7 linked regions of the Homo sapiens genome follow. The protein of the gene in region 1 purifies or fractionates together with the protein of each later gene. This does not show direct contact. Each region holds a gene or a part of one and is shown in the gene's direction. Other genes may lie near its edges.

Evidence for each region.
Region 2: the proteins of TRIM24 (region 1) and TNRC6A purify together in Homo sapiens (affinity purification with mass spectrometry; 2 studies listed by BioGRID, with this or other methods). This does not show direct contact.
Region 3: the proteins of TRIM24 (region 1) and LMNB1 purify together in Homo sapiens (affinity purification with mass spectrometry, with the first as the bait; one large-scale study listed by BioGRID). This does not show direct contact.
Region 4: the proteins of TRIM24 (region 1) and SMG7 purify together in Homo sapiens (affinity purification with mass spectrometry, with the first as the bait; one large-scale study listed by BioGRID). This does not show direct contact.
Region 5: the proteins of TRIM24 (region 1) and DSG1 purify together in Homo sapiens (affinity purification with mass spectrometry, with the first as the bait; one large-scale study listed by BioGRID). This does not show direct contact.
Region 6: the proteins of TRIM24 (region 1) and FAM120A purify together in Homo sapiens (affinity purification with mass spectrometry, with the first as the bait; one large-scale study listed by BioGRID). This does not show direct contact.
Region 7: the proteins of TRIM24 (region 1) and CNOT4 purify together in Homo sapiens (affinity purification with mass spectrometry, with the first as the bait; one large-scale study listed by BioGRID). This does not show direct contact.

Annotation. Positions count from the first base shown.
Region 1 is NC_000007.14:138,582,259-138,585,758, forward strand, and holds part of TRIM24 (transcription intermediary factor 1-alpha), read left to right. Parts: intron 1-1,591; coding exon 1,592-1,741; intron 1,742-2,483; coding exon 2,484-2,693; 3' UTR 2,694-3,500. UniProt on the Homo sapiens protein: Transcriptional coactivator that interacts with numerous nuclear receptors and coactivators and modulates the transcription of target genes.
Region 2 is NC_000016.10:24,792,151-24,795,650, forward strand, and holds part of TNRC6A (trinucleotide repeat-containing gene 6A protein), read left to right. Parts: intron 1-1,322; coding exon 1,323-1,499; intron 1,500-2,393; coding exon 2,394-2,569; intron 2,570-3,500.
Region 3 is NC_000005.10:126,832,636-126,836,135, forward strand, and holds part of LMNB1 (lamin-B1), read left to right. Parts: intron 1-58; coding exon 59-166; intron 167-3,500. UniProt on the Homo sapiens protein: Lamins are intermediate filament proteins that assemble into a filamentous meshwork, and which constitute the major components of the nuclear lamina, a fibrous layer on the nucleoplasmic side of the inner nuclear membrane.
Region 4 is NC_000001.11:183,541,999-183,545,498, forward strand, and holds part of SMG7 (nonsense-mediated mRNA decay factor SMG7), read left to right. Parts: intron 1-77; coding exon 78-504; intron 505-2,354; coding exon 2,355-2,499; intron 2,500-2,931; coding exon 2,932-3,314; intron 3,315-3,500. UniProt on the Homo sapiens protein: Plays a role in nonsense-mediated mRNA decay. Recruits UPF1 to cytoplasmic mRNA decay bodies.
Region 5 is NC_000018.10:31,331,660-31,335,159, forward strand, and holds part of DSG1 (desmoglein-1 preproprotein), read left to right. Parts: intron 1-41; coding exon 42-208; intron 209-1,929; coding exon 1,930-2,064; intron 2,065-2,357; coding exon 2,358-2,543; intron 2,544-3,500. UniProt on the Homo sapiens protein: Component of intercellular desmosome junctions. Involved in the interaction of plaque proteins and intermediate filaments mediating cell-cell adhesion.
Region 6 is NC_000009.12:93,458,185-93,461,684, forward strand, and holds part of FAM120A (constitutive coactivator of PPAR-gamma-like protein 1), read left to right. Parts: intron 1-3,500. UniProt on the Homo sapiens protein: Component of the oxidative stress-induced survival signaling. May regulate the activation of SRC family protein kinases. May act as a scaffolding protein enabling SRC family protein kinases to phosphorylate and activate PI3-kinase.
Region 7 is NC_000007.14:135,391,603-135,395,102, reverse strand, and holds part of CNOT4 (CCR4-NOT transcription complex subunit 4), read left to right. Parts: intron 1-687; coding exon 688-1,185; intron 1,186-3,500. UniProt on the Homo sapiens protein: Has E3 ubiquitin ligase activity, promoting ubiquitination and degradation of target proteins. Involved in activation of the JAK/STAT pathway. Catalyzes ubiquitination of methylated RBM15.

The DNA of each region.
Region 1 (3,500 bases):
GTGGCCGGGCGCGGTGGCTCACGCCTATAATCCCAGCACTTTGGGAGGCCGAGGCGGGCGGATCACGAGGTCAGGAGATAGAGACCATCCTGGCTAACACGGTGAAACCCCGTCTCTACTAAAAATACAAAAAATTAGCCAGGTGTGGTGGCAGGCGCCTGTAGTCCCAGCTACTCGGGAGGCTGAGGCAGGAGAGTGGCGTGAACCTGGGAGGCGGAGCTTGCAGTGAGCCGAGATCATGCCACTGCACTCCAGCCTGGGCAAAAGAGCAAGACTCCGTCTCAAAAAAAAAAAAAAAAAAGTTTGATGTGACTTTAACGCATAATTTTAGAGTGCTGGAAAGGGCCTGGTACCCCAAAAGAGTATTCTTCTAATGTCTGAACCCCGGAGGCGGAGGTTGCAGTGAGCCGAGATTGCGCCATTGCTCTCCAGCCTGGGCAACAAGAGCAAAACTCTGTCCCAAAAAAAAAATTTTTTTTCATTTGTTCTACAGTTTGATAAATCTCAAATTAATACAAAGTTGAGAAGAAAATCAGCTTAGTAAATACAGTCAGCTTCTCTCTTAAGAACAGGTTTTGAGAACTTGATATAGGAAATAAATACCTCCAGGGAGAAGGGTCTTTTGTACCCAAAAGAGGCAGGGTAAAGAAGTCGAGAGGCTTGTAACAACATTACCAACTTGAAAATGTAACCTTGAATTGTACTTTTTATTATCCTGGCTTACAGTTACGTTATTAATACCAACAATGACAAAGTAGCCCCCTTTTTCTTAATAAATATCATCTCATTTAGTCTGTACAAAATGCTGTGAGTTTGGCAGGATTATCCCTATTTGAAATATGAAGAAACTGAGGTTAAGTAGCTTACCCAGGACCATGACACTGAGCAGCAGAGCTGGGGATTAAACCCAGATTCAAAGTCCTTCTTCCTCTTGTATAATACATGCAGCAAAAACATGTCAGATTCTACTAGAAATGATATTCTTCCTAGTAATTGCTTTTTGTTTAATAATGAAGAAAAAAATCTAGATGATTAAGAGGAAATATGTGAAGACAAGTTTTTTCATTAAAAATAATTGGGGCTGGGTGCAGTGGCTCACGCCTGTAATCCCAACATTTTGGGAGGCTGAGGCAGGCAGATTGCTTGAACCCAGGAGTTTGAGACCAGCCTGGGCAACATGGCAAAACCCCATCTCTACAAAAAATACAAAAATTAGCCGGCTATGTTAGCGCATGCCTGTAACCCCAGCTACGCGAGAGGCTGAGGTGAGAGGATCACTTAAGCCCAGGAGGCAAAGTTTGCAGTGAGCCGAGATTGTGTCACTGCACTCCAGCCTGGGTGACAGAGCAAGACCCTGTCTCAAAAATAATAATTGGTTAAACTTTTGGAAAAAGTCACACAAACCTTTACCAGTGTGTGTGGAAGGCAGTGGGCACTTGTAAACACTGTTAAATGGGTTTCTTTACTAATGGCAAATAGCACAGAGAAAAGCAATGAGAACATTCTGAATTTTAGAGCACATCTCATAGAATATATTTAGGACAAGGTGGAATTTAGCTATTTGTATTATAACATCTCATTTTTTTAATAGGTGCCTGATTATTACAAAATAATTAAAAATCCAATGGATTTGTCAACCATCAAGAAAAGACTACAAGAAGATTATTCCATGTACTCAAAACCTGAAGATTTTGTAGCTGATTTTAGATTGATCTTTCAAAACTGTGCTGAATTCAATGAGGTGAGGCTAGGGGAGGGAAGGGGGCAGGAAGGAACAGCAGTGTGAAAATCATTTTATTACTAAACACCTTGTCAACATAGGAGACCAAGATGTCTGAGTTAGAATAAATTTCCAACTTTTCAGATCAGGGAATGCAAGAGATAATTCAGATAACTCTGTCCACATTTATATTCAAAGGTTTATTAGATGGTGATGGAAATGCAAATTACAGCTGATAACTGAAAGACAAAATGTTTTTCTCTGACCTAGACATATTCTTTATCATTCCCACCTGTATTTCTTATTTTTATGTTGATCTTGAAATATTAAGGATGTGGGCCAAATAGCTCTAATTTAAAAATTTCTCATCTGTCAGTTCATCTACACATCAGTCAGACTTAGAACCTTTTGCTGCTGGTGGTTTGTTCTCTGTTACTCATTCTAATAGTACTACATTTAATTTGTTCTAAAAATACCTGGTTCATGATCCTATGGTTATGGAATCCTAACTGATATGTGTTTGGCAATATAGTCCTACCATTACCACCTTCTTTTAGAATAATCCAGGCTTTTACTTTTATCTTTTTTCCACACTTCTGAATCTTTTATTTTAGCTGGCCTTCTGTACAGAGACTTTGTCTAGTCCTAAACTATTATTTCAATGACTATGCATGAACACTTTTCAAAACAGCTCATTAATATATATAATCTCAGAAGTCAAAAGTGTGTCCTTTTTTTACTCATTTTTATTTTTACTCCACAGCCTGATTCAGAAGTAGCCAATGCTGGTATAAAACTTGAAAATTATTTTGAAGAACTTCTAAAGAACCTCTATCCAGAAAAAAGGTTTCCCAAACCAGAATTCAGGAATGAATCAGAAGATAATAAATTTAGTGATGATTCAGATGATGACTTTGTACAGCCCCGGAAGAAACGCCTCAAAAGCATTGAAGAACGCCAGTTGCTTAAATAATATGCAGCACCACTAGCTTGTGCTGGTTTTTAGATTTTTTTGTTTTCAAAAAAACATTTGTCAGTAATTTAACATCACTACAAAAAGAAGAGTTTGTGACTATTCTCATCTCTGTTTTGGACGTTTACTAGACTTTGATTTCCTTAATAGCCCATTTCTGTTAACCTCTTATCACTAAGAAAGAAAGGAAAGAAGGAGATGAATAGAAGAAAGAAAATGGAAAGAAGGAAAAAAGGAGGATAGAAAAAGGATGGAAGAAAGAAGCATTGAAAACAAAGACATTCTTCCCACTTCTTGGATTTTTAAACCACAGTCTGGAGTGATAGCTACTGTAGAAAGGAAATAGACTTTGTATGAACTCTTTAAGTTGAAAAGTAAAAAATATATGTGGTTTGGATGTGTGCTTTAATTCAGCTTTAGAAATTAATACCACTACCCGTGAATTATATGGCCTGACAATATGAATTAGGTGTACTGTACTGAAGAACAGTACTCCACAAACATGGGTGGTAACAAGAGTTCCATCCCAGGAGGCCAAACGGTGCAACAGAAGGGTAGGTTAGATGCTATTAAGAAGGCACTTAATAGTACATCATGTAAGATGGCAACTGTATTAAAGAAAAATCCGGAAAACAAATGTTTGATTTTTGTTTTTGTTTTTATCTTGTCTGTAGAGGTATTTTGGTATAGCAGGTTTTCAAGGCCATTTTTTATACATTTCTAGATCTAGATTTTCAACTTCTTCCACTGAGGGAAGTATATACATTTGGGTTTGCTGTGTGTCTATGTGAGGTTTAATTGTACAGG
Region 2 (3,500 bases), on another chromosome or scaffold:
AAATAAAACAAGTATCTCATAAATACAGTACTCTCTAAACATTAGGTTGTATATTTGGCTTTAGAAGGGATTTTTTTTTTTAAGTAGGTGAGAAATCCAACTCTACTTAGATACAGTATATATGTTTGTGTATTTAAAACATTTGACAATACCTTTCTAGTATATCCTTACTTTCCTCTCTAATAATGAACTAATTCCTATCTCTGCAAATTTTCCCAACAACATTTTTGTTAAGTGTGATTGGCTACATTGTCTTTGTTAATAAAAGTTTTATTGACTTAATAGTCTCATTGGAAGTGGATATGGGAGTGCTTTCATGAGCTAACTTTTTGGCACTGAATTTTTTTTTTTTAGTCTAAGTATAGTTTGTTGTATTAATTTAGGTTTGATTCTTAAAAGGAAGAAGTATGTATCTAAGATGAAGCCTGTTGGCTTTGATTTTTTTTAATGAAACATTTATGGCTTTTTTTTTTTTTTTTTTTTTTTTTGCTTTGGACAACCTCAGCCTAATACTTCAGATTTTAAAATAAGCATTGTTCAGCATATGTAAAAAGTAGGTGACCCATTATTGTTAGCTGGGTAGTAAATTGTTTTTCCAGTGTAGGTGGTGTGGAAGGGGTACACTTGTGGCACAATTTTTTTTTTTTTTTTTTTTGGAGATGGAGGCTTTCTCCGTCACCCAGGCTGAAGTGCAGTGGCATGATCTCGGTTCACTGCAGCCTCCACCTCCCAGGTTCAAGCAATTCTCCTGTCTCAGCCTCCTGAGTAGCTGGGACTACAGGTGTGTGCCACCACGCCCAGCTAATCTTTGTATTTTTAGTAGAGACCAGGTTTTGCCATGTTGCCCAGGCTGGTCTCAAAATCCTGACCTCAGGTGATCCACCTGCCTCAGCCTCCCAAAGTGCTGGGATTACAGGCATCAGCCACTGTACCCAGCTGGTACAGATGTTATACATACACTGTCACCCAGCTTATCACCTGCTCCAATTTACAAGGTTTGGTTTAGAATGACTTGACTTTTTCAGGAATTAAACTGATGCTCAAAGGAGAGTGGTTTTCCATAACTATGCAAAAATCAGCTCTAGGTCTAGAGGGTAATTATGAAAAAAGTTAAAAAAATTCTCACCTTATATTAATGGGAAATAGTTTGTCTTTTTTTAACATAAAACAGATGCCATCTTTTTGCCTATCACAGTATCATTATTCAGTACATAAACATGAAGTTCTTCATCCTTGGTCCCTAAGTTTTCTTTATTGTCCCTTATTCCACTGCACCTCCTTACCTTCTATGCTGATGACTTCTTTTCCCACACTTTCTAAAGGCTGGGGTGAGCCCTGGGGGGAGCCTTCTACTCCAGCCACAACTGTGGATAATGGTACTTCAGCATGGGGTAAGCCCATAGACAGTGGTCCCAGCTGGGGGGAACCCATTGCTGCGGCATCCAGCACATCCACGTGGGGCTCCAGCTCTGTTGGTCCACAAGCATTAAGCAAATCTGGTAAGTTATTGACAATGCCTGGTAGCTGTTATGTAGCAGTGGCGAACACTCACTGACTATAATTAAATAATTAGATAAGGTTTCTATGTTATTTATAATATATTCATATAATGTAACATGATAGATGATGTTCAGTATTTTGCTCTTTGATTTTGTAACGTGGTTTATTCTCTTTCTGAATTTTCCTCTTTTCTCATATTTCTTAGAACTGTAACTATTCATTTGCATATACTTCATCAAATCTAAATTATATTTTACCAAATTAGGTTATCTAGGAAGAGTCTACTAGCAACTTTCATGCCATCCAGCCTGAGAGGCCAACTAGTGTAGCCATGAGGACACATATTCAGACTGTCAGATGATTCCCTGAAAGTTACAATTAGCATAGTTCAGAAAAGACCCAAGATTGAAATTAACATTGTCATTATCCCATAGGCTGTGTACAAGATGCCCGGTAGGAATCCCAAGGGCCATGTGTGAAGATAAGATGCTTTCTGCTTAAGGCTTTGAATACTCTCTGGCCATTCTCCCTAAAAATATATATAAAAATTAATTCTTTCAAATTTCATTCATCTTCTTTGTCCTGTGCATCACTATGCAGATTATTAAGTGGGTACAAACAAGAGTGCTACCATTGTCCATGTTCAAGAACTATGATTTGTTAAAGGCATGGAGGAGTTTTATTAAATTTTTAAATAAGAATATATTATTTTTCATGGAAGGTTTAGCTCAGTATAAAACATACTTTCCTTCTGTGCAGATGCAGGAAGGGAAATAAGTGTGCACGTGTGTGTTTTCTTAGGTTCTCTACCCAATTTTTAATATATACTTATTCTCCAGAAGGAATTCTTTTATTAAAGTATGTTTCTCTTTATATCACAAATCCACAATCAGGGCCAAAATCTATGCAAGATGGCTGGTGTGGTGATGATATGCCATTGCCTGGAAATCGCCCCACTGGCTGGGAAGAGGAAGAGGATGTGGAGATTGGAATGTGGAATAGTAATTCATCTCAAGAGCTTAACTCATCTTTAAATTGGCCACCATATACAAAGAAAATGTCATCGAAGGTAAACATTTCAAGGGCAAAGCCCTTGAAACTTTAAATTCCAAAGGTAGTTTACCCACAGAAAATTAACTTTTCGCCTGCCCATTTCTGGCGGTCAGTACAGTCCAGGCAGCCCCCACCTTAGGTATAGCCACTTGTATGGGCAGCCACCTAGAGAAACATAAGAAAGACCACAGGAACTTCCTTTCTCCCCACTGCTACAGCTTGGGATTTCTCTCTTCCTCCCCCTCCACCAGTGCTGCCTGGGACAACCCCTCATCCTAGGGTGGTGCCTGCAGTGGTGAGGATGAAGAGGAGGGCAAATCTCCATGTTGACTCTTTCCATCCCACTGCCAGTTCATCTCCCATTTCATTTCCTCACCTGGAGTCCCCCGCCACCCGCTTACCCAGAGTCACCATCCTCCTTATTCACCTGTCATGTTTGTCCCTATCCCATCCCAAAAGGTCCTGTGACAAAAATCCCTAGGAATGATCTGAGCTTGGTTTTGCTTTTATGTGTGGACAAATCATATTCCTAAAGCTGGCTGTACATCGAAATCCCATGGCATTTGTTAAAAATGCAGCTTCCTGTACCTCAGGTCTACTGAAGTTTTGGAAATTGGACCAAGTTTCTTATCCTAAAGAAACTCCTCAAATGTCTCTGATGCAGAGCCAGGTTTGGGAAGCACTGATTTAGAGCACTGGTTCTTAAGAGGTGGCACTGGGGGCTGCTGTCAGATCCTCCTGGGGACCATTTTCAAAATATGTGCCCAGTCCCCCAGGTGGTTCTAACATAACATCCTAACCCACCCTACTTGAGAATGATTACCTTTTGAGGGACCTTAGAAGTCAGATACCAGTGGATAGCTGGACTAGGTAACTGCCAAGGTTCCTCACTTTTAATCCTGGGATTCTAAGTCTAGGACCTGCCATTTTCATTTTTAAAATTTTTC
Region 3 (3,500 bases), on another chromosome or scaffold:
TCCCCCGCATTTGGTGATTTTAAGTGTGTTTTTTAACTTAAACTACTATTGTTTTTAGGAGGTTGCTCAAAGAAGTACAGTCTTTAAAACAACCATACCTGAAGAAGAGGAGGAGGAGGAAGAAGCAGCTGGAGTGGTTGTTGAGGAAGAACTTTTCCACCAGCAGGTATTACTTTATTTATTTAATATATTTATTTCAAATTTTATTCACAGAATTACATGAAGACCAAGAGTGTGGTTGGGTTTTTCCCCTATCAGTTGATGAACCAGCGCAGTTATCTACCAAGTGGGGTTTGTACTCCCCAAAGGGATATTCAAGGTGATACTTTAGGGTACTGGAAGAATATGTTGGCACTTTTATTTTTATTTTTTCTCATTGTACCAAGTTTCAGTTTTGTCCTTTGTTTTCTAATGTGCATTATGTGTTACAGTAAAACATGTCTATGGATTGGATGTTTACTCCAAACTTGTTTACTCTGTAGGGTCCTATGATTAAAAGGTTTAGATCACTAATTTAGAGCAAGAATCTGCATATAAACTTTAAAAAAACAAAGTAATATTCAACTTCAGTGTGAAACAAAATTCTTGCTGTATTAAGTTCCTAATCATTATCTAATTGAAGATAGATTTTGGCTGATGGTTGGGCTTTTGAGAGCCCTTGAAATAAAGAAACTCCAAATTTGGTTTTAATTATAATTAAATTGGAATTATTAATAACTAATGAGCCTTCAGTTTATATTCTCAAGCTGTTTGAGTCCGATCATTAATCAAAGTGTCTACCCTTATCCTGATAAGACTTTGTTTCCATGGCTCCAGATTTTTAGTCTTAAGTCTGCTTTGCTTCATTAGCCCTAGTCCTGGTCTAAATAAACACTGTCTCATATATTTAACCCCCAGGGTTGAGAACCACTTGAGGTGGGTTGCATGAAGTAGCATGAATTTTTTACCTGGATGCCTTCTCATACATTTTGGAGGAATATTTTAAAACACATATGTTACACTTAACTTACAAGAAACAAGCACAAGTTCCATTTTCTGTGCTTCAATGGGAACCATCGTAATTACTAGAAGTAAAATAATTATGTAAGAGATAACTCAAGGCACCAGACAAGAGGGTCAGCATGAGTTATATAGCATGTCAGATGCTAGAGGAGGTACTCCAGGCCAGCAGAGTAGTTGAGAAGAACTCTGTGAGGTGATGCTTGTCCACTAATTTGAAGGATGGGTGATTATTTGGTTATTGGAGAGAAGGCAGATGATGGTGCTCTGAGGATGTTGGAATTCACCATTGCTTCACTAACAGACCACCCCAAAGCTTAGTGGCTTAAAACAGTGATTTCTTACTTCCCATAATTCTGTGGTTTGACTGGGCTCAGCTGGGCAGTGTTTCTGTTCCACATGCTGCAGACTGAACTCAATCGAGCAGGCTGTGTTCAGCTCAGAGGTTGGCCTCGGCTGGAATATCTTTTAGGTCTCTTTCTGTGTGGATTTCTATGATTTAAGAGTTTAGTCAAAGCTTTATAGCATGGCAATTGTCTAACAGAGTAAGTGGAGGGTACAGGTTTCTTTCTTTTTTCTTTTTTTTTTTTGAGATAGAGTCTTGCTGTGTCGCCAGGCTGGAGCGCAGTGGCGCAATCTCAGCTCACCGCAACCTCCACCTCCCAGGTTCAAGAGATACCCCTGCCTCAGTCTCCCAAGTAGCTGGGATTACAGGCATGCGCCACCACGCCTGGCTAATTTTTTATATTGTAGTAGAGATGGAGTTTCACCATGTTGGCCACGACAATCTCAATCTCAAGAGAGTACCAGGTTTCTTAAAGGGCCCTTTGTAACATTCTCTTAGTCAAAGTCATGAGGCCAGTCCAGATTCAAAGTGGGGGTAAATAGTCTCCACCTGTTGGTGGGAGGAATGGCAAAGAATTCATGGTGATCTTTAACTCACTACAGAGGATGTGTAAAGAATGTGGCCGGGCACGGTGGCTTACGCCTGTAATCCCAGCAGTTTGGGAGGCAGGCAGATCACAAGGTCAGGAGATCGAGACCATCCTGGCTAACACGGTGAAACCCCGTCTCTACTAAAAATACAAAAAATTAGCCGGGCGTGGTGGCGGGAGCCTGTAGTCCCAGCTACTCGGGAGGCTGAGGCAGGAGAATGGCGTGAACCCGGGAGGCGGAGCTTGCAGTGAGCTGAGATGGCGCCACTGCACTCCAGCTTGGGTGACAGAGTGAGACTCTGCCTCATAAAAAAAGACTTAATGCACCAACTATATCCGCTCATCCAGTTATTTTGTAGGGTTCATGTGAGAGTTAAATGAAGTTGAAAGATTGGAATTAAACTGACATAGTCTGGAATGCTTAGGGATGTAGCTTCTGTACAATTTGGAACAAAGGAGAAGTTAAGACTGCATTTTAAAATATCACTGGCCAAGCTGAATCAGAGGGACTAACTCTAGAGAGGAGATTCCAGAGGCAGTGAGGGAATATATAATGGAAATTTATTAAGGCTTAGTGACTAAACTTGAGGGTGAGAGAAGAAAAAAAATAAAGATGTATGAGGTTTTTAGCTTTTGTGATCACAGAAACTAATGATACCAAGGTTCATAAGAGGGAAGATGGAAGGGCAGAACAGGCGTTTGAACTTCATATTTGAGGATGAATCCAATCGCCTTTTGAATTGATTAGAAATATTTTGGTGACCTTCAAAAAACCAGTTTTAGTTCAATCAGTGGTGAGTCACAAGTCATATTGTGAGGTTATATGAAATTAATGAGTGATAAAGAAATGGGTAGAGGAGCCATGTTGACTTCACCTTGGAGGACAAATCCACTGCAGATGGCTTGGGATGTGTAAGTTCAGGATCTAGCAAGCTGTAGTCTCCGATGTGGTTGTTAAAAGCTGATCCACTGATCTCCTATTTCCTAAGTTATCAAAAGAGGTTATTGAACAATGGTTTTCAAATTGAGCTGCACATTAGAATTACTTTAAAATTATATATAGATAGCTACCCTTTCCCAGTAAAATGAGAAATTCTTATTTGATTGATCAAGGGACCTAGATCAGAATTTGTTTTAAACTCCTCAGGATCTGAATGTGTAGCCAGAGTTGACAATTACTGTTCTGGAATTTGTTGGGGGGTATTCTAGAAAGAAGTCCATAAAAGAAGGTTAGAGGCCAGATACGGTGGCTCACGCCTGTAATCCCAGCACTTTGGGAGGCCAAGGGCAGGTGGATCACTTGAGGCCAGGAGTTCAAGACCAGCCTGGCTAACGTGGTGGTGATGCACACCTGTAGTCGCAGCTGCTCGGGAGGCTGAGGCATGAGAATCGCTTGAACCCAGGAGGTAGAGGTTGCAGTGAGCCAAGATTGCACCACTGCACTCCAGCCTGGGCAACAGAGTGAGACTCTATCTCAAACAAACAAAGAAAAAGAAAAAAAGAAAAGGTTAGAAAAGATGAGAGATGATAAAGGGTCCATTTGAGGTTAGGTAATATGGTTTGGTA
Region 4 (3,500 bases), on another chromosome or scaffold:
CTTGGATCCACACACAATTCAGTTGTTATTTTTTAAGTTAATGTTTTTTATATATGGATTTATTTTTGCTTTTTTAGGCTGATTCAGTGTGAAAATGAGGTAGGGAAATTGTTGTTTATCACAGAAATCCCAGAATTAATACTGGAAGACCCCAGTGAAGCCAAAGAGAACCTCATTCTGCAAGAAACATCTGTGATAGAGTCGCTGGCTGCAGATGGGAGCCCAGGGCTAAAATCAGTGCTATCTACAAGCCGAAATTTAAGCAACAACTGTGACACAGGAGAGAAGCCAGTGGTTACCTTCAAAGAAAACATTAAGACACGAGAAGTGAACAGAGACCAAGGAAGAAGTTTTCCTCCCAAAGAGGTGAGAAGGGACTATAGCAAAGGAATAACTGTAACTAAGAATGATGGAAAGAAGGACAACAACAAGAGGAAAACTGAAACCAAGAAATGCACCTTAGAAAAGTTACAGGAAACAGGAAAGCAGAATGTGGCAGTGCAGGTAAGCTGTATTTGAACTATAAAGCAGGTAGAGGAAGGCTCACACAAAAGGCAAGATTTTTCATTTTGTTCTAAAGCCATGAGAATTGGCCGTCCTGGAAGTTTAAATGCATTATTTAATTGCATAGTAAGGTTATATAAAGAGCTGTGATAGATGGTTACTTTTTCAATTCTTGGGAATTGTGAGTGAAAAAAAAATCTCAGCCTGATTTGACACTTTCGTCAGTCTTCACCAATTTAAGCAGTTTGAAAGGATTAGTTGCAGAGTTGTCAGTTTCACACAGGATTATATTTTATTTAGAAGATATAACTACCATTTGTCAATGCTATAGTGGAGATTTGGGGTCTTCTGTAGATCCAGTAGAACCAAGAGTATATTAAGGCTTATGCAGTTTTTTTTTTTAGATTCACTATAATATATATATATGTGTGTGTGTGTGTGTGTGTGTGTGTGTGTGTGTGTGTGTGTATTTTTTTTCTTGGAAAAATATGAGACTTTTTTATTGACAATTATACTTGTCCCGGCTATTGGTATTAATATCACTTTAATCTTATCCTGGATCCTGGGAATTTATAAAGGAAGAACCCAGGTTTCTTGCTGGGAAAAGATAAGCACTGCTCAGTTATTTGTGACTTTCTTTTTATTAATATATTTTCCCAAATAGAAAAGATGGTTTCATGTAAACAGAAAAGGGCCTTTATTCTGTGATGGTTTTATTAATACTATTAATGTTTGAATAAATACTTAAGCAGCCATGTGAGTTGTTAACACATTTTAGCAAATGTATGTGTTTGCATGAGAAACTTTACATTGTTGAAGGCTGCTTACAAATAAATAGTACCTTTGAAGTATTTCTCTAATTTTTTTGAGAAAGAGAAATAAGAAAATAATAGTTCCATTTTAACATTATAGCAAGGAGAGAAACAGAAAGACAAGGTAGAAATTAAGACATAGGGGAGAGAGAGAGATGCTAGGGAAAGGCAAGAAAAAAAAAAATGAACTAGAAAGCCAAAGGATCCGAGTTTTAGAGATAATGAGTCCAGCATTTTCTGTTTACCTTTCCTCCATTCTCTGTAACTGCTCACAATAAGGTCCAGACTGAAAATACAATCTCCTTTTTTGGTTTCTCATCCATCTCAAATCACCTATAAATGATTAAAGAAAGAAAGAGTAAACATATCACCACACTCTGTACCTCGTCCTGGGTTTTCTATAAATGCTACTCATGTTCCCTCATTTTGCTCAACTTTGAGCAGTGCATATGACATCTACTCTCTGGCTCCATCTATAGGATCTCAGGGCCTGTTCCTTACTGCTGAAAGTATCCTTATTTATTCTGAAGGGTGGTAAAGTTGCAGGGTGGAAGGTGGATGCCTGACTGCACATATGGCTACCCAGATGAAATCAAACTGAGGGCCAAAATAACTCACCTATGGGTTAATAGTCATTATTAGTTCATAATTCATGTATGTCGTTTAATGAATTAGAGTATAGAGAACCCTGGGCCCCAGAACAAGCAACTTAAAGTCATAGACAAGTTTTTTTCAACTTGTTAGCATCAGGCATCTCATTTGTAAAACAAATGGGCTCTAAGGTCCTTTACATTTTTGGATTTTTGTGATCATGGGAAAGCAAAATAATTAGTAAAACTAAGATAGTAAAATTATCTTTTATTGGCTATTAAATAATTTGCTTTGATTTTCCATTTTTAACTTAGGTGAATTTAAATATCTTCAGCATGTACTTTTTGATCTAATGAGGTTTTAAATACTTTCTTAGGAGTAGGGTCTTCTTTCTAGCACATTTGAGTTTCAATTTATTATAGATAGTTTTGCTTCTATTGGTTACAGGTAAAATCCCAGACAGAACTAAGAAAGACTCCAGTGTCTGAAGCCAGAAAAACACCTGTAACTCAAACCCCAACTCAAGCAAGTAACTCCCAGTTCATCCCCATTCATCACCCTGGAGCCTTCCCTCCTCTTCCCAGCAGGCCAGGTAAATATGTTTTGTAATTTCTTCTACTTAATCTTTTCTGTGCAAGAATTTCTATTCAGTCACTGAGAAATGTGTTTTCTGTTGGAGTAATGTTACTAAGCCATAAAAAGTTCTATTTTCCCTAATACTTATAAAATTATTTTTGAACTGTTTGTGTGTAGTGTACATACAAGTGCATGTTTGTTATTATGAAGGAAATCCTATCACTAAATACAGAAGCTACTCACAGAACACTGATTACTTCAGTGGATAGAGGAAAAATATCAAGTCTATTTTTAGTTCTTCAAATCAAGTTAAAGATTGACAACATGACTAATCTCTTTTGTGATGTGTTAGAAGACTCCCTCTACCTACCTGTTAAAAAAAAAATGACTTTTTTTGCAATTTTTTGCTGTTTCCTTAAAACTAAAGCTGTGTTCTTCTGTTTTGAAGGGTTTCCGCCCCCAACATATGTTATCCCCCCGCCTGTGGCATTTTCTATGGGCTCAGGTTACACCTTCCCAGCTGGTGTTTCTGTCCCAGGAACCTTTCTTCAGCCTACAGCTCACTCTCCAGCAGGAAACCAGGTGCAAGCTGGGAAACAGTCCCACATTCCTTACAGCCAGCAACGGCCCTCTGGACCAGGGCCAATGAACCAGGGACCTCAACAATCACAGCCACCTTCCCAGCAACCCCTTACATCTTTACCAGCTCAGCCAACAGCACAGTCTACAAGCCAGCTGCAGGTTCAAGCTCTAACTCAGCAACAACAATCCCCTACAAAAGCTGTGCCGGCTTTGGGGAAAAGCCCGCCTCACCACTCTGGATTCCAGCAGGTAAGTTACAGTTGTGTGTACTATCCAGCTGAATGAAATAAGGGGAAATGCTGAAAGATTCAATGTTAGAAATGCTCATTAAACTTTGACATACTTCTTGCTTAGATTTATAGTGATTATGGGAAAACAAAAGTATTGTCTCTACTGTTTATGAAAGTTCAAATGTTTTCCTTACTCTTGTAAAGG
Region 5 (3,500 bases), on another chromosome or scaffold:
TGTAAATCACCCATTTGCAATCAATTTTCCTTAATTTCTAGATACACTGGTGATGATACTCAATGCTACTGACGCAGATGAACCGAACAATTTGAACTCAAAAATAGCCTTCAAGATTATAAGACAAGAACCTTCAGATTCACCAATGTTTATTATCAACAGAAATACTGGAGAAATTCGAACGATGAATAATTTTCTAGACAGAGAGGTAATTCTTTTTCTTTAAGTGGGTTTTTGGTCTCAAAGGAACTGATTCTAAAAGCAAGGATACTGAAGAGACAAAGAGATGAAGAAAATGATGGTTTAAATTTTTACTTGTATAACTTTTTCACATAATTCTTTCATGTAAGAAATATTTTTTAAATGAAAAAGGGAGGATTTTTCAATTACGTTTTGTACTATTTTTCATATAATTAATTGATTAAAATTTACTTCAATTTAAGAAAACTATATTGTGAAAGTACATGAAAATATGCCTAAGGTAGAATCTAAGGTAGAATCAAAAGCTCCATTTCTCTAAAAAGTGTGTTCTATAATAAAATGAATTTAGGAATGACTTGCTATATGTCCACGTTTTGGTGAGTTACAGTGCATGCGAGTATGCTGGAGGCTCCAGGAATATTGATACACTAAGTTCTCTTTCTTTAACCTAGCATATCTAAGCTCCATTGACAACAGAATTCTTGTTTTTCCTATGTAACATCTATTGATAGCTCACCCATTCATTTACTTTGGGAAATGAACCACAGGATAAGAATGATGGATAGGAATTAAATGACAGACTGACCAATCTTTTTATTTACAAATAAGAAAATAACTAGTGATGTTAACAGAGTAAAATCAGCATTATGAGGTTTCTAGCATGCCTTGTGATTTTATGATTTAGTTTTAAAATAAGTGCTTTTTCATTATTTAAAAAAAATTGTCTTTTAATAGAATGTTGCAACCTAAATGTACATTAGGAGCATAAGTGAGGAAGCTTTATTTTCTGATGGTATTCAATTAATTTTGTTTTAATTATTAAAAATGACAATCTTCTTGCTGATGACTTTTAGGTTTAGGATAATTCATATTATTTTAATACTCTTTAATTATCTAAATGTTACAAGTTTCTATGTTACCTAAGTCTCCTTTTATACATGTTTGAAAATCAACATTAGAAGAAATTGAATGTTTACACTTTTCTCTCTCAAACTGTCTTAAACAGCCCAATGAGGTTTCTTTCATGTCAAAAGAGCTTTCGTGGTAAAGCACTGTAAGAAAGGGCTGTCAGAAGGAAAGGGACTCTGCAGCCATTGGGAAGCCACCAGGGCAGATATTCTCAACCTGGGGTCAATGGAGAGACCTCAAGATGTCTCTATAAAACCCCCTAAATTATATCCACCATTTTGAATGAGTGTGCATTTTTGCATGAGTCAAGGAAAGCCTCCATAGATTTTACCAGCTTCTAGAAATATAAGCACCATTGAATAGAGTCAAGAATAGATACATCACCAATAATTCCACTGCCATAACCCACTACCTCTCAAAACACAAAGCTTTGTTATCTGTTTATATGCTTCTTGCACACTCGGGGGCTGATTATTTAGGTTATGGAATATTCATGCCATAAATTTTTGGTAAACTTAATCTCTCTCCTTGAGATCATTCTGGTTTGTTTTACCCTTTATAAACTTTTTCAACCTCTGGACATATTATTATTAATAAGAAATGAAGCCTTTTAAAACGTGTTGCATCTTTTAAATAATGCGTGATAAGTATTATTGGGAATAATCATGTGAAACTTGTGGATTTCCCATATTCTGTGTTAACCCTACCTCTATCATAGATTTATGTAAACGTTGAGCCAACTTTTCAAAGAACTTTACATAAGACAAAGTAAAGGCTGTCTACGTCAAGTGTGATATTGCCTGTAATATGTATTTTTAGCAATACGGCCAGTATGCTCTTGCTGTAAGAGGCTCTGACCGAGATGGCGGGGCAGATGGCATGTCAGCGGAATGTGAGTGCAACATTAAAATCCTCGATGTCAATGATAATATCCCTTACATGGAACAGTCTTCAGTAAGTATTTGTTCTTGGAATTAATAAATCTAAATTCGCTATATTCTAAAACATATACGAACAATTCTGCTTACAGAGGCACATGTTATGTTTATTGACATACAACCCAAATGTAGACACATACTTTTTTCTTGTGTTTATGCAAGAATAAATGGAGTTAAGCAATGAAAAATGAGATGAAAACCACAGATATCTTTTCTAAATAATGAAGTTATCAACATTCCAGTATAAGCCTACTGTAGTTCTCTCTCTTTCACACAGTTTGTGCTAAGAGTTTTCACTTCTTGTTTCAGTATACCATAGAAATTCAAGAAAATACTCTAAATTCAAATTTGCTCGAGATTAGAGTAATTGATTTGGATGAAGAGTTCTCAGCTAACTGGATGGCAGTAATTTTCTTTATCTCTGGAAATGAAGGAAATTGGTTTGAGATAGAAATGAATGAAAGAACAAATGTGGGAATTTTAAAGGTTGTTAAGGTATGGTATAATTATCCTAAATATTTTGTTTTCTTAATCTTTTTTCAAAATGTTAAACTTAAAATAAAATGATGCTAACATTTCACAAACTTGGCTTAGTGAAAGAATAAAAATTACTGTGTTTTAAATATATATATAACATAGAGCTTTTTAATATAGTCTTTCTGCTTATAATCATTTTAGAAAAACAGGTATTGAATTTTAACTGGAGACAGTTTGTCAATACAGTACTCCCAAATAGATCATATAAATTGAAAACACTTAAAAATATATTTTATGCTTACAACAAAGTATAATTAATCCTTAAGGTTAATGTCTTAAGAACTTTTTAAAGCATATTTAATAGAGGCTTTAAAACTGTGTCCATGTCAACATTGTAAGTCAATTATTACACATGTAGAATATTCATCATGTAAATAAAAATGTATTTATTCCTCCCGCGTGTTTTCATAAAATTTAAGTTAAATTACTATAAATGTAGAATTATCACACTCCCATCTCACTGTGGCTGCTGATCAAGGCTTATTAGGAACACAGATATACTGGAAATTTGGTCCAAGTCAACCGGTCCAGAACAACTGGATGCCGTTCTCTTATGTCCTCCCCATATTAATGGTCCACATTTACCTGCAGTAAAATTTCATCTGAGATGTGAGAAAAAAAATTTGCCTCCTAGGGAGCTGATAGTCAAAGTTTCGCCCTGTGCTACACAACTTACACAGTCGATTTTTAAAATCTACAACAGCTGTTTATGGATTGTATATGTTGCATGCAATATATAGTTTCATGGTAAAATATAATCCCTATTTAACTATTTCTTTTTTCAGACTAGGTCTGGAAAACAGACTCTCAAACGACTCTGTCCCCATACGAATGTGTGGCTTTTTGCCTCCTGTGTCTTCTTAAAGTGTCACCATGCCTACAGCTTGTATTTAATTTGAGACAGTACGCAGGTGC
Region 6 (3,500 bases), on another chromosome or scaffold:
GTGAATTTCTAATTGCACTTTAGATACTCCAGAGCTTGGACCGTATAATTAGTGAGAAAAGTGACCCCACCTTTAACACTTCTGAACGCTGTGTCCCTGTCACTCCTTGCCGCTCCCACCGTCTGTCCCCTGCTTGCCTTCCGCCATTTCTCTTTTCCCATTCTGTTGGCTTCCTTTTTAGCTGTAACTAGCTTGAACTTCATGATCATTCACTTCAGAGTTACACCCTCTACCACCATAGAGTCATGCTTGGTATTCCAGCATCCCATCCTCCCAGTCCCTAGAATAATGACACACCAGGCCAATTCTGGCTCAGTAGTCTCCTACTTAACTGTTATACTCTTCCTTTTTTCCAGTACCCCCAACATTTGAATTCACCATATTTATCCAAAAGGTCGAAGAAATGCTTTGCAAACCCTTCAGTGGGTTGTGAAACCAAATTATTGGATGTTTGCCATTACTTAAAAATAACGGAGTAAAATAGAATGAAAAATAGAATGCAAGGCATATACTATAGGTAAATTCCATGTCATTACACTTTTGTATTACTGTGGGTAGCAGTAAGAATGGCCTCTGCACCTACCCCCGCGCCCCAGTGGAACTAATCTTGCACAGCTTTGGCAGGGTAGACGGCCACATCTTCAGGGAGGTCACTCTCCTGTTGGGACTTGAACAAAACCATTAAGTCCAAATTCCTTATTCAGACTTGTAGACCTTCCTGCGACCTGAACTCATTTGACCTTACTTAATGTTTCACAATCCCTCTACTGTACTTTTTAAAATGTTCCCAACCCAACTGGTCACTATTTCCCCAAGAAATATCCAGTTTCTGCTTATGTCATTCCCTCTTGTTTAACTACTGTACTGTGTCCTACTTTTGCTCATCAAAATTTTACTTACACTTCAAAGCCCATGTCAAATGCCAGCCTTCTTCATGGAATCTCTTGATATTTGAAAAAGTGGACTGGGAATACACACACAGCATGGTGTATGTTTGCAGTGGACATTCTAGTCTGTTGTATTGCACCTACCTGCATAACTGCATATTTACCTCCCCCAGCCACCCGTAGGCTCCTTGAGGCCAGGGACTGTTTTACTCCTCTTGTACCCCATTATGCTTAGCATAGGCACTCAACTCTAATCAGAATATTTGCTGCATTCCATTATATAGCCAGACAAATTAAATTATTTCAAAATCTGGATCAATGGCCATTACTTAAGTTTTGTTTTGTTTTTTTAATCTTAAATTTCTCATACTCTCTTTTCTGACTGGTTCCCAATGGTGATTGATTCTCCTTTCAGCAAATGTTTGAGCACCTGTTAATGCCCAGGCCTGGAGGAGTGAACAGAACAGGAAAGGAAGGAAACCTTCAGGGAGCCTATAGCCTCTGGGTTGAGGAGGTTCATTTAAATCCTTTTTTTCTTGTTTGGAACTTTCTTTAATACTGTAGAACAATATGTTTACTCAGTGAAGACCTGTGAGTGGCTCTCAAGTAGGGTTGACAGTTGAGACATTTGGCAGGGGACATTTGGCAGTGCCTGGAGGCATTTTTGGTTGTCACAGCTGGGGGAGGATGTTAACTGAAGGCATCTATTGGGTGGAGGCCAAGGATGCTGCCAAACATTCTACAGTGCACAGAACAGCCCCCATAGCAAAGAATAATGTGGCCTAAAATACCAGTAGTGCCAAGGTAAGGAAATCTTGGTATGAGCAAATCAAAGAATTATAAGCTTTATGCCTTTGTAAAGTCATATAAATGTTTGCGATAGAGATGTCCAAGTACACCAGGAAGAAAGTAATCAAAACTACAACTTAATTTTCTGAATCAAAATACACGCAGGTATACTTCCTCCTATGTCTAACATGTTTAGATCGACATTGTTCTTCATTTTAGTTTTCTGAAATTTATATGAATAGGAAGAAACTAATTAACACATATTACACATTCCAACCTTAATAAGCACTACACCATAGGAATAAATGTCAAATATCGCGTAACATGAAGAAGAGAGATTTTAGGATTTGAAAACTTAGACTACTTTCCAGTAGATTTATAGGCAGAATTTTCTAAATAAAACAGGCATTTAAATGAATCACAGTTCAGATAAAAATATTCTTAAATTATCTAAATGTCTCCATATAGTTCATCGTTTATTTCCTTTTCGCTTTTTTTTGAGATGAAGTCTCACTCTGTTGCCCAACCTGGAGTGCAGTGACACAATCTCAGCTGACTGCAACCTCCACCTCCCAGGTTCAAGTGATTGTCCTGCCTCAGCCTCCCAAGTAGCTGGGATTACAGGCACGCCATGCCCAGCTAATTTTTGTATTTTTAGTAGAGACAGGGTTTCACTATGTTGGCCAGGCTGGTCTCGGACTCCTGACCTCGTGATCCACCCGCCCTGGCCTCCCAAAGTGCTGGGATTACAGGCATTAGCCACTATGCCTGGCCCTATTTTTGCTTATTTTTATGTTTTCTCTAGAAGTAAATCTGATGAAGACCTTGCCTGTTATCCAGCTCTTAGAGCGATGCTTGGTGTGTAGTACATGCTCAGAAAATATTTGATAAATGGATATGAATCACCAGTTACAGGCAAGGAAGTGTGATGGCAGAAAGATGGTAGGAAGCAGAAGTTTTAAAGTCCCCCTAGAGTTAATTCCAAAATCACTGGTGTCAGCTTGGCCACCTGGTGCAGAGCTTTTATCTTTGAGTAAACCTTTTATGCTTCTTAACTTAGGAGATGTGTTGAGGGCATAAAATGGGTGACTGCTTCAGGAAATGGGCTGCATTTAGCCACCTTTCCTCTTGTTACACCTGGCTTTATCACACATTGTTTCTAGGCATCTTAGGGGACAGTGTAAAAGAGTTGAACTTGACCCACTGCAGTATTTGTAGAGGTGATGGTCAATCTGCATTATGGAGTTTAGGATCTGTGATTTAGAAACGGTACTTTTATGCGCCAGTCATTTGGCATTTCTCAGTTGTCTCTGGAATCAATTAACTTTCTTGAAAGGATGAATTTACCATGTTGGTGTTTTACTGGTTAGTGCAGGAAAGTATACTAGAGGGTTTATTGCTGGAGGGTTGACTTCACAGGTCTGAAGTACATCATTCATCCTCTGAGGTAGAGCACATTTATGAATAGTAGTAACAAGCCAGCCCAGACTGTTGGAGGGGGTCACTAGACTCCATGGATGAGGTGTTTTAATTTCCTGGACCTATGAAGAGTTTGCAAGTGTTACTATCTTGAAATAAATAGTATCAACCTGTGGTTCTTTTTCCTAAATTATGAAAATTGAAATTTTATGTTTTAGATTTTGGAATGGTATTTTAATAAGAATGATATTACTAGGATTTAGCTGAGTCATTAGATTACTAGAGTAGGCTAAATAGATTCTGAATACAAATAATGTGTGTGTTTCTTCCTTTTATCATTGTATTTTTTTATTTTTAAAGTTTGTAAAGTTTAATTTGCATTTCTTTTATGACATCACTCCTTTA
Region 7 (3,500 bases), 3.2 Mb from region 1:
ACTTAGATTTTTAATTAGATTTGTATTTTTATTTAATTAGATTTGTGTTTAAGATTTTCCACCCCCAGCTGACAAAGATGCAAGTTATTTAGTAGTAACAGTTATGTTACTACTAAATGGTATTTTTGAGCCATTTCCATTTTTATCCATTCTAAATTCTCTCATTACTATGAAAGGTGGCATAAAAGTAACATTGACAACAGCACCTGTGGAGCAGAAAATTCCAAAAAACTATGAGGATTAATATAAATACTTTTTAATTAAATTATATTTTTCTTAGTATAGAAAGCATGTATTCAAAATTATTTGTACTTTGATAAATACATTTAAAAATCAACTTTACTAATTAAAATCTGTTATATTTATTTGATGGAAGTGACTTAGGTTGGTTTTGATTATGAATGGTTGAGAGTATAATTGGAGTGTCAAGTACATTTTTTTCCTTTGATTAGCAAAATCAGTCTATATCATTCAGTTTTTGAAGCTAGTAGCTTAAGAGTTAAGTAACTGCTAGAAGTACATAAGGCCTTTTGTAATTATATGATCTTAATGTGCTAAGAAGTCACATAGATTTTGCACTTACTTAATTTGTAAAATGACATGTTTAACTTTCAGTAGCATGGATACTTATTAAGTATGAAAATGAGCTATGTATCTGATATTCATCACTATTTTTCTTCCCAACAGAAACAATCCCAGTATCATCCTCTACAGACTGGCAAGCAGCTTTTGGCTTTGGTTCTTCTAAACAACCAGAGGATGACTTGGGTTTTGATCCCTTCGATGTCACTCGAAAAGCCTTAGCAGACCTGATTGAGAAGGAACTGTCCGTTCAAGACCAACCTTCCCTTTCGCCCACATCTCTTCAGAACTCCTCTTCACACACTACAACCGCCAAAGGTCCAGGCTCTGGATTCCTGCATCCTGCTGCAGCTACAAATGCCAATTCTCTCAATAGTACCTTTTCAGTCTTGCCCCAGAGGTTCCCTCAATTTCAGCAGCACCGAGCGGTTTATAATTCATTCAGTTTTCCAGGCCAGGCAGCCCGCTATCCTTGGATGGCCTTTCCACGCAATAGCATCATGCACTTGAACCACACAGCAAACCCCACCTCAAATAGTAATTTCTTGGACTTGAATCTCCCGCCACAGCACAACACAGGTCTGGGAGGGATCCCTGTAGCAGGTAGGTTCATTTAAAACCTTTGAGAATTTTTGAATAACTCATATTTTCAGGTTGTTGGGTGGATAGGGAAGTAACTGTTGAATAACAGAGTACTAATATCTTGGAAATGTCTATGAAAGATTAGTCTTTATCATAATCTAAAATATATTTTTCATTAGATGGATGCCTTGTAATATTGAGCTTTATAAGGATGGTGGAGTATTATACTTAGTTATTGTTTGGAAGCATTTTACTTAATAGGATAATTACCAAACTTTCATATGGTATACAAATGCAAAATGAAAAAGAAGAAAATGGTCTCTGAAGTTATGGTACTATAAAGTCCAACACCGTGGTGAAAATTATGATTTTATATTCTAAAGTAAAATGGTTAAAAAAAATTTTTTTAATGATAATTAATGAGAGCATGAGGGATAAAGCCACTCTCTACCTACTTTTGGCAGTTACTTGTTTTGACTGATACACATATACACACACATCAAAACTGAGCTATAAATATACTTGAGAACTCTGATTATGAATGTTTTACAAGCATATCATATGTCTCAGACATACACCTTTTGTGAAAGAGAAATTGTTCAAGGAAAGATACTTTCCCATTTGATCTGCCATGTTTTTATTTCTGGGGAAAAATATGAAGTATATATAAGGTAATGTAAGTTTGATGCCAAAATACTTCTGGTTTTGTACTGCTACCCTTGAAGGTTTCAGAACTTTTGGGTTTTAAGATTCTATATAACATTTTTTAGATGAAGTATCTTCTATATCCAAGGGAATTATTCTTGTTAATAGTGTTCTCGTTTAACTTTGGCTTTAGAGATGATGTTAAAAAAAGTTTGTTCCTCTCCTGATTCTCTCAAGTGAAATAGAATCATGATTCTCTCAAGTAGAATACAATAGTTTCTCACTCTGTTAGAATAGTTCTTCACATAATTCATACAATTTATTGTTATCCCTTGTTAGATATGGCATGGCACAGTATTATTGTAATAGGATACTTTTATCAGCAGCAAGGCAGAAGTTCACGCTCTTGTTTTTAGCAAGGCTGATAGATGAATTTACAGAGGTCTATCAAAGTTCTTTATCCCTGTTCCCTTTGGGACCGACAATATTTCATGTTTTAGACGAGTAGCTAGGTTAAGAGAATATAGTTTGTGGCTGTTGACATAGTGAAATTTACCGTTGATACAGTGAAGTTAATTTACATAAGCCTGGTAGCACGTAATGTAGTTATTTGCACAGTGTTGGGACTCTTATTTGTTCATTTAATTATGGTAGTTAGTAGGTAACCAGAGTGACATTTTTCAGTCCTCTTCTTCTACATGATACTTACTTGTGAAACAATGTGTTCAGTTCCAAATACTCCTTTTATTTCCTTCCATTCAAGATAGCATATTAGAATGTAATTTTCTTTGATTTTACTTTGCTTTAATCATTGAGAAATGTGGCATTTTAATTACTAGTAGTGTATCTCATAATTGATTATAACATTCATTAAAAGTTAAAGTTAAGTTCTCCCAAATCATCAAAACATTTAAAGATTAGACCAATTACAGTGAATATGAGGGTTTCTATTTGCCCATCAATGAATTAGGACATGTGGGACATATTAAAGAAGTTTAAGATATGGATAAAATTTCCACATACTTAAAGTATAGTTGAAGAGACTAAAATAATGTGTGAAAGTGGTAACTATATGTCTGATACTGGAATCTGAGAGACATCAATGTACCCTGTAATTCTTGGGGAGGCTTCATTGAATAAGTAGGAATTGATCCCTACTATCATATCTTAGATTTGGGTTAGCAGCAGGGGAAGAGAAAAGGCCTTTTATGTTGATGGAAACCTCCTGAGTAAAGGCATAGAGGCAGGAATTAGTATGTCATTACACTGAGAAGTAATACAGCTACCTCCTATAACAGGAGGTGCTTCTTAAATTGTATAGATATAATGGATGAGAAGATGAGAAACTCTGACAATGAGGCAAAATGGCATGGACTTGGTATGATAGGAAGTAGGATGCCTTTATGGGATTCTAGTTATTAGCTGTCTTCTTTTTGTGCTTTTATTTGACTTATTACATGACGATCTTTGATTTTCTTCCAATTTCATAGTCATCATATTATCCCTTAACACTGAAGAGTAGTTTTAACCCATATATTTCAAACCAATAGTTATTCTCAGAATGCTGCACTGGTAATGAGAAATCGCTGATTAGTGAGTTTAGTTGTCCTTGTGTTAGTCATTTAAAATCTTCGTCTAAAGTAGATGCTTTATGGAAAAAATGTGACATTAAATTATGGTCCTATCTTTGG